Regions from separate parts of the Homo sapiens genome. Here region 1 is linked to region 2. The links come from fine-mapping of genetic effects on gene expression. A gene starts in region 2. The other region holds a variant in brackets. All regions are shown on one strand. Distances are between the middles of the regions.

Region 1 (5,375 bases), 86 kb after region 2:
GTAAAAGGACACAGTTGGAAACACTAGTACCAAGCTTTGACTGGAATCTCGTATTTTCAGATATGACCAGACAACTTCAAGGAATTAAAGTTGACTTTGTGGCGCCATTAACACCTCTGTCACCCCTCTCCCCAACTGCCACCATGGAAAAACTGGCCTGGTACCTTGAATACAACAGCCCAGCCGGTGGTCTTATAGCGGGGTGAAAAATGTCACTTCCTGACAGGCCCAGGAAACTCAGGATATTTTTGGGACCTCAGAGAGGAATTCACCATAATCTATTAAGTACTATAGGTGACGTTTAATGGTGAGCCCTGGGTTTGGCTTCACAGCCTTGAGAGTCTTTTAAAAGTCTAAAAGACTTATTTGAGATTACCTATCAAAAGTTCCAGAAAAGCCAACTTTTTTTTTTTTTTTTGAGACAGAGTCTAGCTCTGTCACCCAAGCTGGAGTGCAGTGGTGCAATCTCAGCTCACTACAACCTCCACCTCCTGGGTTCAAGCAATTCTTGTGCCTGAACCTCCCAAGTAGCTGGGATTACAGGCGCGTGCCACCATGCCTGGCTAATTTTTGTATGTTTAGCAGAGATGGGGTTCCGCCATATTGGCCAGGCTGGTTTCAAACTCCTGGCCTCAAGTGATCTGCCCACCTCAGCCTCCCAAAGTGCTGAGATTACAGGCATGAGCCACCACGCCCAGCCAAAACTATGAAAAAATCCACACTTCATCTGTTAGATTACAGCCTGGTTCACTGTAAGTTTTTATTATCTTCCTATAGACTGAACTGGATCCTGGATTCTTCTAGTTTCCTCCTGATACGGTTTGGCTCCGTTTCCCCACCCAAATCTCACCTTGAACTGTAATCCCCATAATCCCTATATGTCAAGGGTGGGACCAGGTGAAGGTAATTGGATCGTGGGGATGGTTTCCCCCATGCTGTTCTTGTGATAGTGAGTGAGACTCACAAGATGTGATGGTTTTGTAAGTGTCTGGCATTTCCCCTGCTCGCACTCAATCTCTCTCCTGTCACCTTGTGAAGAAGGTGCCTGCTTCTTCTTCCCCTTCCACTATGATTCTAAGTGTCCTGAGGCCTCCCCAGCCATGCAGAACTGTGAGTCAATTAAACCTCTTTTCTTTATAAATTACCCAGTCTTGGATATTTCTTTATAGCAGCATGAGAACGGACTAATACACCTCCAATATCTGGCTCCATACAACTCTCCAACTAAGAATAATAACTGCTCTGTTCTTTAATCCCTATAAGGTGAAGCTAGACAAATCAATATAAATTTCAAGAGACAAGTTTCATGCCTAATGTGTGGGCCACACAGAGTTCAGCAAATCACCCTATGCCATAACCAGAGACATTAAAACAGTGAACCAGGACAAGAAGTTGATAGCTTTGTGCTGTGGATAGCTTTTCCCAAGACTTTGGAACAAGCCTCCTCATCATAATGAGACTCTCACCTCTCTTAATGCCTTGCTTAAGCTTTCCTCTTTTGCTTGGCGCAGGATAATGCTGTAATCAAAATTCCACAATCAAACAGCTTCTGTAGGTAACTTGATGAAGTGCTGGATCTGTCATGTCAAACCCAAATCTTTACATGACCTAAGAGATCCTTTAATATACCTAGTGGTTAACTTTAGCAACATCTCTAATACAACTGTTTGTTCAAATTGAACTAGTGGTCCCTTGCATAGAGTTAGACTTCTAGAACCACTCATTCTCTCTCCTTGTTTTAAATTAGCACAGTCATGGGAAGCTGGATAATAGAATTTCTACCTACTAGCTGAACAGGGAGGCATCTGTGCAGTTGCAGACACTTCTTGTTACAGATGGATAAATACATCTGGTATTAAAGAGACTCAGGTACAAAAAATTAACAAAAGGCGACTTGGTTAAAATGGGTAGACTTCTAATATAGCTCATTCTTTGATCTATCTGATTTGATTGCTTTGGTTCATGGGGACCCTGCTTAGGGAACATACTCCAAACTCTTCATACTATCCTTCTGATAGTAGTAGTCTCCCTATGCACTGTATTCTCTCAAATGCTTTGAATGTTTACATGCAGCCATCCGTGAAACGTCAAATGGTCTCTCTTGGCTGGAACAACAAAAACTCAAAGAAATGAGTGACCATGAGGACCCTGTAATCCATGAATGGCATGTTGAAACTGGCAATGCAGAATGATAGAAACTGAAAGTAGCACTAATGCCCTAAGTTTTGGTCAGACTCTCACCTAGGGGTACTAAAGGATCTCACCTAGGTGAGACTGTGACCAAATGGGGGGAATTGTTAAACAAAAATTATGGGAGGCCATTGTTTTGGACTAAGCTCCTGCATTAGGCCCTAACAAAACAGACCAAATCAAAATACAGTCTCTGTAATGTTAAATGCCATATAAGCAAATAGATGCCAACAGACTAGTTTTTCCTGAAAACAGGTGATTCCAGTCTACCTGAGTTAGCATAAGTCAGTCCCCTGTGCTTTAATCTTTACCAAGAAGTAACTTATGTTAACCAATCAGGTTTTTTTTCTATTGTTCTGTTTCCTTGTTTCCACCTTACCAAACCTACTGTTCTTTCTGCCATTGCCCAGTGGGAGTTTTCATTCTATTTGCAGAACAGAGGCTGTCCTGATTCATGAATCATGAATAAAAGCCAATTCAATCTATAATTAAATGTTATAATTGTCTTTTGACAGGTGTTAGGGTACACATTGCTTCACATACATTTACTTTTTTCCATGATGAAAATATTTTGTCCAATTATTCTGAATTTGGTTTTACCTTTGAAATGGATATGGCTTTTATTAATTCTGATTTTTAGATTACTTTTTTATTCTGTCACAGAATTATGCAACATTCACATCTTCTCTTTACATTTCTTCTGTTGAAGTATATATAAAGAACTGTAGCTTTTAGTGGATATTCAAATACTGGAAAACACCCACAAGCATTATTACCACTCTAATAAAATAACATTAGTGTCTCCTACAAAGGTTAGCTTCACTACACAGAAGCATCTGTCCAATCTGCCAATTTAAGGATTTGTTTTGCTCCAAAACTTATTTCTTGGAAAAAAAAATTATTTCTTAGGATTTATATAAAGTATAATATGTGCACCAACTTATTTATTTTGTTTGCAAGAATGACTCCCATCACCAAAGTTATACTCAAGACTAACTGTTCAGAATGTGATTGTTTCTCTCCTACAAGTTCCAGATTTGGTTTCTGGGACCTAATTCCCTATGTCAGTG[C/T]TTCTTGTGCCTGCTTTTGACCTGACATCAATGGATTCCTTCAACCAGCAGTGGCTCTATGTTGACTGTCAAGCTTTAATTCTCAGAAGAATTACAATATTCCCCCCTCCCCTGCATTTTCCTGATTTCTTAAGATCTCTCTTTTTTTATTATTATTATTTTTTTTGGAGACAGGGTCTTGCTCTGTCGCCCAGGCTAGAGTGAAGCACTGTGATCATGGCTCACTGCTGCCTTGACTTCCCAGGCTTAAGCAATCCTCTCACCTCAGCCTCTGGAATAACTGGGACTACAGGCACGAGCCACCATGCCCAGCTAATTTTTTTTTTCTATGTTTTTGTAGAGAGAAGGTCTCACTATGTTGCCTCAAACTCTCTTACGAAAAAGTAACTTATGTTAACCAATCAGTCTTTTTTTTTCCTATTGTTCTATTTCCTTGTTTCTACCTTACCAAACCCACTGTTTTGCCAATGCCCAGTGGGAGTTTTCATTCTATTTGCAGAACAGAAGCTGTCTTAATTCATGAATCATAAATAAAAGCCAATTAGATCTATAATTAAATATAATCCTCCCTCCTCAGCCTCCCAAAGTGTTGGGATTATAGGCGTGGGCCACAGCACCAGGCCTTGACTGATATCTCCTCTTGGTATTTGAAAAACATGGAAATTTCTGAAGAAATGCCAGAAAGGAGTTCCCACTGGAAACGTGAGTACCAGCCAGTTAGGTGAATATAGACGACATTTGCTTTAGCTTAAGGTGAATTATAATCTCTACATTTAAACAAAAGGATAACTTTTCATTTCACATTTCTTACAGTTCAATCTTAAACAAAGACAGGCTTTCCATTCAAATTATATAATGACCAGAAGCAAGCAGTAACAATCACTGGCTAATAAATATTTTGCATAAATATAAACAAACATGTGTTAAATATGCAATAAATGAGTATAAATAAATTTCTACTACTACTACTTCCAAAGGGAAGTCAGTACTACTAAACAAAAAAGCAAAAGAAATTGCCTTTTATCTCCTCTAAATTGCCGTCTATCTCCTGAAAGAGCTATTACCTCTGTGAAATTTCTTACCAAGTTCAAAGTATTCTTTTAAAGGCAAAGGTATGTTGAAACCTTCCAGTAAGCATAAATACAAACACCACCTAGAAACATGTTAAGATCGTTTACATGATTAACCCATTTATACCGGAGGTTGAAAAATTTTTTTGTGAAAAATCAGACCTTGGCGATGACGTTGAGCAGTAGGATATAAATAACTCCCACAAGCTTAGAGTTCCAATAATGGAACACTAGGTATAAATGGATTAAAGATGAAACCAATGAGAAAAGGAAAGTAATTCCCAATGCTCATGCTATAAGAAAGTCATTTCTACAAAGAAAAGTACAAAATGATGGGGCATGGTGGCTCATGCCTGTAATCCCAGCACTCGGAGAGGCCAAAGTAGGTGAATACCTTGAGGCCAGGAATTCAAGACGAGCCTGGGCAACATGGCAAAACTCTGTCTCTACAAAAAATACAAAAAGGAGTTGGGTATGGTGGTGTATGCCTGTAGTCCTAGCTACTCGGGAGGCTGAAGTGGGAGGATTGCTTGAGCCTGGCGGGTGGAGGTTGCAGTGAGGCAAGACCAAGACACTGCACTCCAGTCTTGGTGACAGAATGAGACCCTGTCTCAAGAAAGGAAGGAGGGAGGAAGGGAAGGAAGGAAGGAAGGAAGGAAGGAAGGAAGGGAGGGAGGGAGGGAGGGAGGGAGGGAAGGAGGGAGGGAGGGAGGGAGGGAAAAATCTGTTTTTTTTTTTTCCTTTGGTGACTAAACTTAATTTGAAAGGAAAACCCTGCACTTGAAGGGGGTCAAATACCACTTCACCTGTTGTTAAAAGAATCAGGCTTGGTTGACCTTTTATACATGCTCACCTCCTCTCTATATTCCCAACCCCCCTCAGAAACATCCTCATGCAGAACTCAATTTTCCTCAATTTTCACGACTTCCAAATCTAATCTTCAGTCCTCATTTTCCCCCTGCTACCTCTAAAACCCCAAGAGTTTGCAGAACACTCCTACAGGGAAATCTAACCATGCCTTACTACTTAAGATATGTAAAATCAA
Region 2 (5,375 bases):
ATGTAAATATTTTGACTGTTAAAGGGATACTTGTTTATATTCTTAAGTATAACATGGCAGTTTTGTATTCTTATACAAATTCCTTTGGGTATATTTAAAAGAGAGAGATAATAATTTTATACATAAAGGTCAATAAATACAATATACCCTATTTAAATATATGATTAAAAAACTCATTTTAGATGCCAACTTGAAAATGTGTAAGGCAAACATATTGTTAAACATTTTTTAGGGGGTTTCAACAAAAAGTCTGTTATAGGCCATAGTGCTCTAGGGGTGGTGACAGTGATCCGGAGGCGGGAACGCCGGGCTGGCATTGTCCCTGGAGCCATCTACATCCAGCTGGCTGGGCTGGAGTTTGGTGTGGCTTCCAGTGTTCACTGCTATGATGCTGCTATCAGGTCAGAATGTCAGCAGGGATTTGTCTAGGCTTTACTGTCTCCCCAGCATTAACCATAGTGCCTGGCACGTAGTAAGAGCTCAACACATATTCAGCGCATGAATGAGGGGCCGGCACTTACGGAGCTCTCACTTTGTGCCAGGCACTGTGCTAAGAGCTGCCTATGCATTCCCCTGGAATTCTCACAACCACGCTGCAGTAGGTCCAGTGAGTATCCCCATTCCAGAGATGGCGAAACTAAGCCACAAAGAGGATACATAACCAGCCCAAGGCCACCAGTCAAGGAAGTAGCAGACTGGGACCTGGGCATCCTGGCAGGCACCCTTTACCATAATGCCTCTCTGTCCCCATGTGGTCCCTGGGGTAGAGTCTGCATCCTTGGGTTCTGAAACTCCAGAGCAAGCACTCTGGGGCACTCCCTGAGTGATACCCTCCTGCCATCTTAAACGGCTCTCTGCCATCTGCTTCCTCCTCCTAAGTGGTTTTCCTTCTGTCCTCCCTGTTTAATGTTTAAGTTGTGCACATCCTGTGACATCCTGGAGACCCATGTTCCTGACCTACTTACCTATTCAACCATCTCTTCTCACACATGGGGTAGCAATGAGAAGCACAGGGGGTCTCTGCAAGGGAGTAGGGAGGTGGAGAGAGCGGGGGCAGCCACACATCACACTGCTGTTCTCAGTGGCCTCCTGCTGTCAACAAGCTAACATTAATAAAACAAGCCCACTCTTCTGCTAAGAGACTGTGACAGGGTAACATTTATTCTAGGTAGCTTTTCAAGAAAACAGCTCTTGCTCCCACGGTCCCCTCGGAGGGCCTGCAGAGCTCCAGCGATGTCAGAGGGCATCTGTTTGTTTCTCCTTTGCTTATAAAAGGGACCTGGAAATCAAAGGCAGGCTCTTAGCCCTTAGCAGTGAGGATGACAGCTCTGCACCAGCCACACGCAGGCCCCTGGCTCTAGGAACCACCTCTCACCCAGACGCCCAGGCACAGCATGGTGGGGAGAGAGTACAGGACACAGGGCCTAGGCCTGCTGCCCCGCCCACAGCCCGCCCCCTAGCCCTTTCTCTGAGGCCAGGTGTACTCACCTAGCCTCCAGGGTCCCCTGCTCAGGTGGCCCCAGAGGCCCAAACCCACTGCTCCCACTTTCTGAGACCTGGGACCCTCACCTCCCCAACTCCCACCATAGGGCGACACTGAAAAGTGTCCCCTTCCCCCCCCCGTTTCCAAGTCACCAGCTTGAGGATGCCCAAGGCTCAAAGGCTCCTCCGAGTGGCACCCCGCATCGGGCTGCAGAGGTCGGAGAGGGGAGGGGATGGTGGGTGCAAAGGGTGGCTTCTTCAGGAAAGGGAAGCCTGTCCCTGGCTCCCAGCACCTGTCACCCCTGGCGATCTCACCCCGCGGCCATCATTCCCGTCCTCACGGCCCATTTCAGGGACACTGAGGCTCAAAGAGCCACGTGATTTATTCAAAGCAGCTCGAGCCACCACTTGGAGCCACAAGAAAGCCCTGGTCCGTGCCTCCTCGCCTTGGTCCCTGGCCCTTCACTCTTCGTCCAGGCTCTCTGACCTCTTTCCCTCTGCGCCCCTGCCTCTTCCCCAGGCCTGGGTCCCCAAGGCACTCGGCCACGCGCTGGGTCCGGGGAAGAGGCGCGGCCGCGGCCGAGGCGGGGACAGGGAGGCGGCAGCCCCTCCTGCGCAGCGACGGCGCGGGCGGGCGGAGGCCGGGGCGCCCCAGCCCCCCGCCCCCGCTCCCTCCGGCCGTGACGTCAGAGCCGGACGGGGTAAACTGAGCGGCGGCGGCGGGGCGCTGGGGCGGAGACTGCGACCCGGAGCCGCCCGGACTGACGGAGCCCACTGCGGTGCGGGCGTTGGCGCGGGCACGGAGGACCCGGGCAGGCATCGCAAGCGACCCCGAGGTAACACGGCCCCGGTTCCCTGCTCGCAGGGCGCGGTGCCGGAGGGGAGCGGGCCCGGGGGAGGCAGGGAGGCAGGGAGGCCCCCAGAGCTACGCGGGCGGGGCTGCGGGGACCCCGGGGCAGCCGGGGCGCAGGGCGCAGGGCGCAAGGTGCACGGGGCCGAGCGTGCAGTTTGGGAGGTGGCACAGTTGGGGGCGGCGGGGATCAGGGCAGCGTCCTGGGGGTTCTAGGTTGGGTCTCCAGATTGGGTCCCCGACGGCGCTCGCGGGCGCTCTTTCCAGGGAGCGCGGGCTCTCGTGGGGACGCGCTCGAGGCAGGTGAGCCGAGGCTGGGGCGCCCGGGGGTGTCCCCGGATGCCGGTGCGCGCGGCTCCCTGACCCGCCCTTCCGCGGCCTGGGGGACGGGAGAATGGGGGGTCCACGGCCGCCTTGGGTCCTCACCGCGCACCGCGCCCGCAGCGGAGCCCCGGAGCCATGGCCCTGAGCGAGCTGGCGCTGGTCCGCTGGCTGCAGGAGAGCCGCCGCTCGCGGAAGCTCATCCTGTTCATCGTGTTCCTGGCGCTGCTGCTGGACAACATGCTGCTCACTGTCGTGGGTACGTGCGGACAGGGCACCCCTGCCCCGGCACCCCAGCCCCAGCGCCCCTTCCCCGGCACTCCACTTACCCCTGCGCGGTCCCGGAGCTCCGCCAAGGCCCGGGAAAGTTGGAGAACTCGCTTTGCAAAAAAGACATCCCCTCCAGGCTGCCGCGCCGGGGCTAGGAGGAGCCGCGTTGTGTGGCTTCGCTTTCCTGATGCTCGGGTCAAAAACTGTGACATCCGATAAGACCCAGAACTTATGTTTCCCCCTGATAATTTCCCGCATCCTCTTGCCTGCTTTCACTGCGATGAAAAAGATTTCTGTTCCAAAAGAGAAATTCCTAAAGTTCAAAATTACGTGTTAGAATAATTATTGGGCTACTCGAAAAGGCAGGTTAGTAATTTGGTGTAGTACCTAAAAGAGCAAGTTTCGATCCCTTACTCCAAAAACAAGACATTTAGATATACTGTATTAGTGAATGACTTGAGATGGAAATATTTCAGGAACCATTGCAAGAACAATTTGAACAATCTTGGTTCTATTATTTTTCCTATAGTGGAATTTTGAAAAATTAAATAATCGAAATCCAGGTCCCTTAATTAGGCCCATTAACAGAGAAGTATTTGGCATGCATTTCCTTAAAAAAAAAAATCCCAGTTTTTAATGAATGAAAAAAAAATCACGACTCATTTAGACTGTAAGTGGTGGGAGCTGTTTCCTTTCTCTCCATTTGCAGGTTTTCTCACAGCAGTTTTCAGAGCATCTGATAGGTTTCATCTCGAGGAGTTATCAGAGCCGTGGAGCTCATCCCTGTTCAGTACCAACGGCATTAGTTCTGCTTCGGCTCGAATGCTCCATTGGACACATGTGCTCACAGCTTCGATTATATGTTTCACAATTTAATTTGTATTTTTTGTTGTTGCTTTTTATTTTGGTTTTTGTTTGTTTTTTTGAAATGGAGTCTCACTCTGTTGCCCAGGCTGGAGGGCAGTGGCACAGTCTTGGCTCACTGCAACCTCCACCTCCCGGGTTCAAGTGATTCTCCTGCATTAGCCTCCCGAGTAGCTGGGTTACCGGCATGCCCCACCAAAGCTGGCTAATTTTTGTATTTTTATTAGAGACAGGATTTTGCCATGTTGGCCAGGCTGGTCTTGAACTCCTGACCTCAGGTGATCTACCCGCCTCGACCTCCCAAAATGCTGGGATTACAGGCCTGAGCCACCGTGCCTGGCCTGTTTCAGTTTTGCTTTTTCCTTGTGAAAGCCTTAGGAATTCTTAAATCTTACAAGTTGTAGGAAAAATTACAGATTCCCACTCATAATAGAAGGATGAAGTGGGCCTGTTGCAGAATTTCCAAGTTATTACTTCCTGCAGGTTAATTTTTTTCTAAGACACATAATGAAGTGTAGTTTTCTGTTTCCTTGATTCATTCATTTGAAAGTCTTTTGAGCCTCTCTTTCTTAGAAGCACTGGTTGACTCCAGGTCAGCACTCTCTTAACGTCAGGCCACATTTTGCTTTTCTGAAATATTCCTTGAAGGAACAATGTGGAAGAAACCCACAAATGACAGAATCTCTGGGACCAGTCAGTTCAGCACAGCAGCTGCCTTTTGAGAGGAGACAGTTCTCAGGGCCGTTGGGGGCATGGTTCTTTCTAGTGAGCTAAGTAAAGTGAACTTGCTCCAATGTCGTTATAGACATATGGCACAGGGCTCCTGTTTTGGGGTAGACCTGTCACCCTCTGGACCTCTTCTGGCATTTGACACAACCATAGTTTTGTTGTTGTTATTGTTGTTTTGTTTGTTTGAGACAGAGTCTCACTCTGTCACCCAGGCTGGAGTGCAGTGGTGCAATCTTTGCTCACTGCAACTTCCACCTCCCAGGTTCAAGCGATCCTCCTTTCTCAGCCTCCAAAGGAGCTGGGATTACAGGTGGGTGCCACCACGCCCAGCTAATTTTTGTATTTTTAGTAGAGAGAGGGTTTCTCCATGTTGGCCAGCCTGGTCTCGAACTCCTGACCTCAGGTGATCCACCTGCCTCAGCTTCCCAAAGTCCTGGAATTACAGGTGTGAGCCACTGCTCCCTGCCGACACAACCATAGTTTTTTGCTGGCTTTTTTCCTGGAGAGGGTTTCAGTGTGATCACCACCTTGCCATTCTGCTCTTATCCCCAGTCCCCATCATCCCAAGTTATCTGTACAGCATTAAGCATGAGAAGAATGCTACAGAAATCCAGACGGCCAGGCCAGTGCACACTGCCTCCATCTCAGACAGCTTCCAGAGCATCTTCTCCTATTATGATAACTCGACTATGGTCACCGGGAATGCTACCAGAGACCTGACACTTCATCAGACCGCCACACAGCACATGGTGACCAACGCGTCCGCTGTTCCTTCCGACTGTCCCAGTGAAGACAAAGACCTCCTGAATGAAAACGTGCAAGTTGGTCTGTTGTTTGCCTCGAAAGCCACCGTCCAGCT

Evidence for each region. PIP is the estimated chance that this variant, and not a neighbour inherited with it, causes the effect.
Region 1: its variant is the best candidate, but not a certain one, in a credible set for the expression of SLC18A2 in whole blood (INTERVAL, PIP 0.54).

The regions. Positions count from the first base shown.
Region 1 is chr10:117,325,003-117,330,377 of GRCh38, forward strand. The region is part of intron 2 of PDZD8 (PDZ domain containing 8); the gene reads right to left. Among named protein-coding and RNA genes, the nearest start is that of PDZD8, 48 kb to the right of the region's middle. The variant C/T (reference allele first, on the strand shown) is at 3,261.
Region 2 is chr10:117,238,903-117,244,277 of GRCh38, forward strand. It overlaps SLC18A2 (solute carrier family 18 member A2), which reads left to right and starts at 2,212. Exons shown (of 16, transcript NM_003054.6): 1 at 2,212-2,318; 2 at 2,777-2,912; 3 at 5,069-5,375. The coding sequence starts at 2,792. It overlaps SLC18A2-AS1 (SLC18A2 antisense RNA 1), which reads right to left and starts at 3,095. Exons shown (of 3, transcript NR_184310.1): 1 at 2,983-3,095; 2 at 2,759-2,881; 3 at 1-1,279.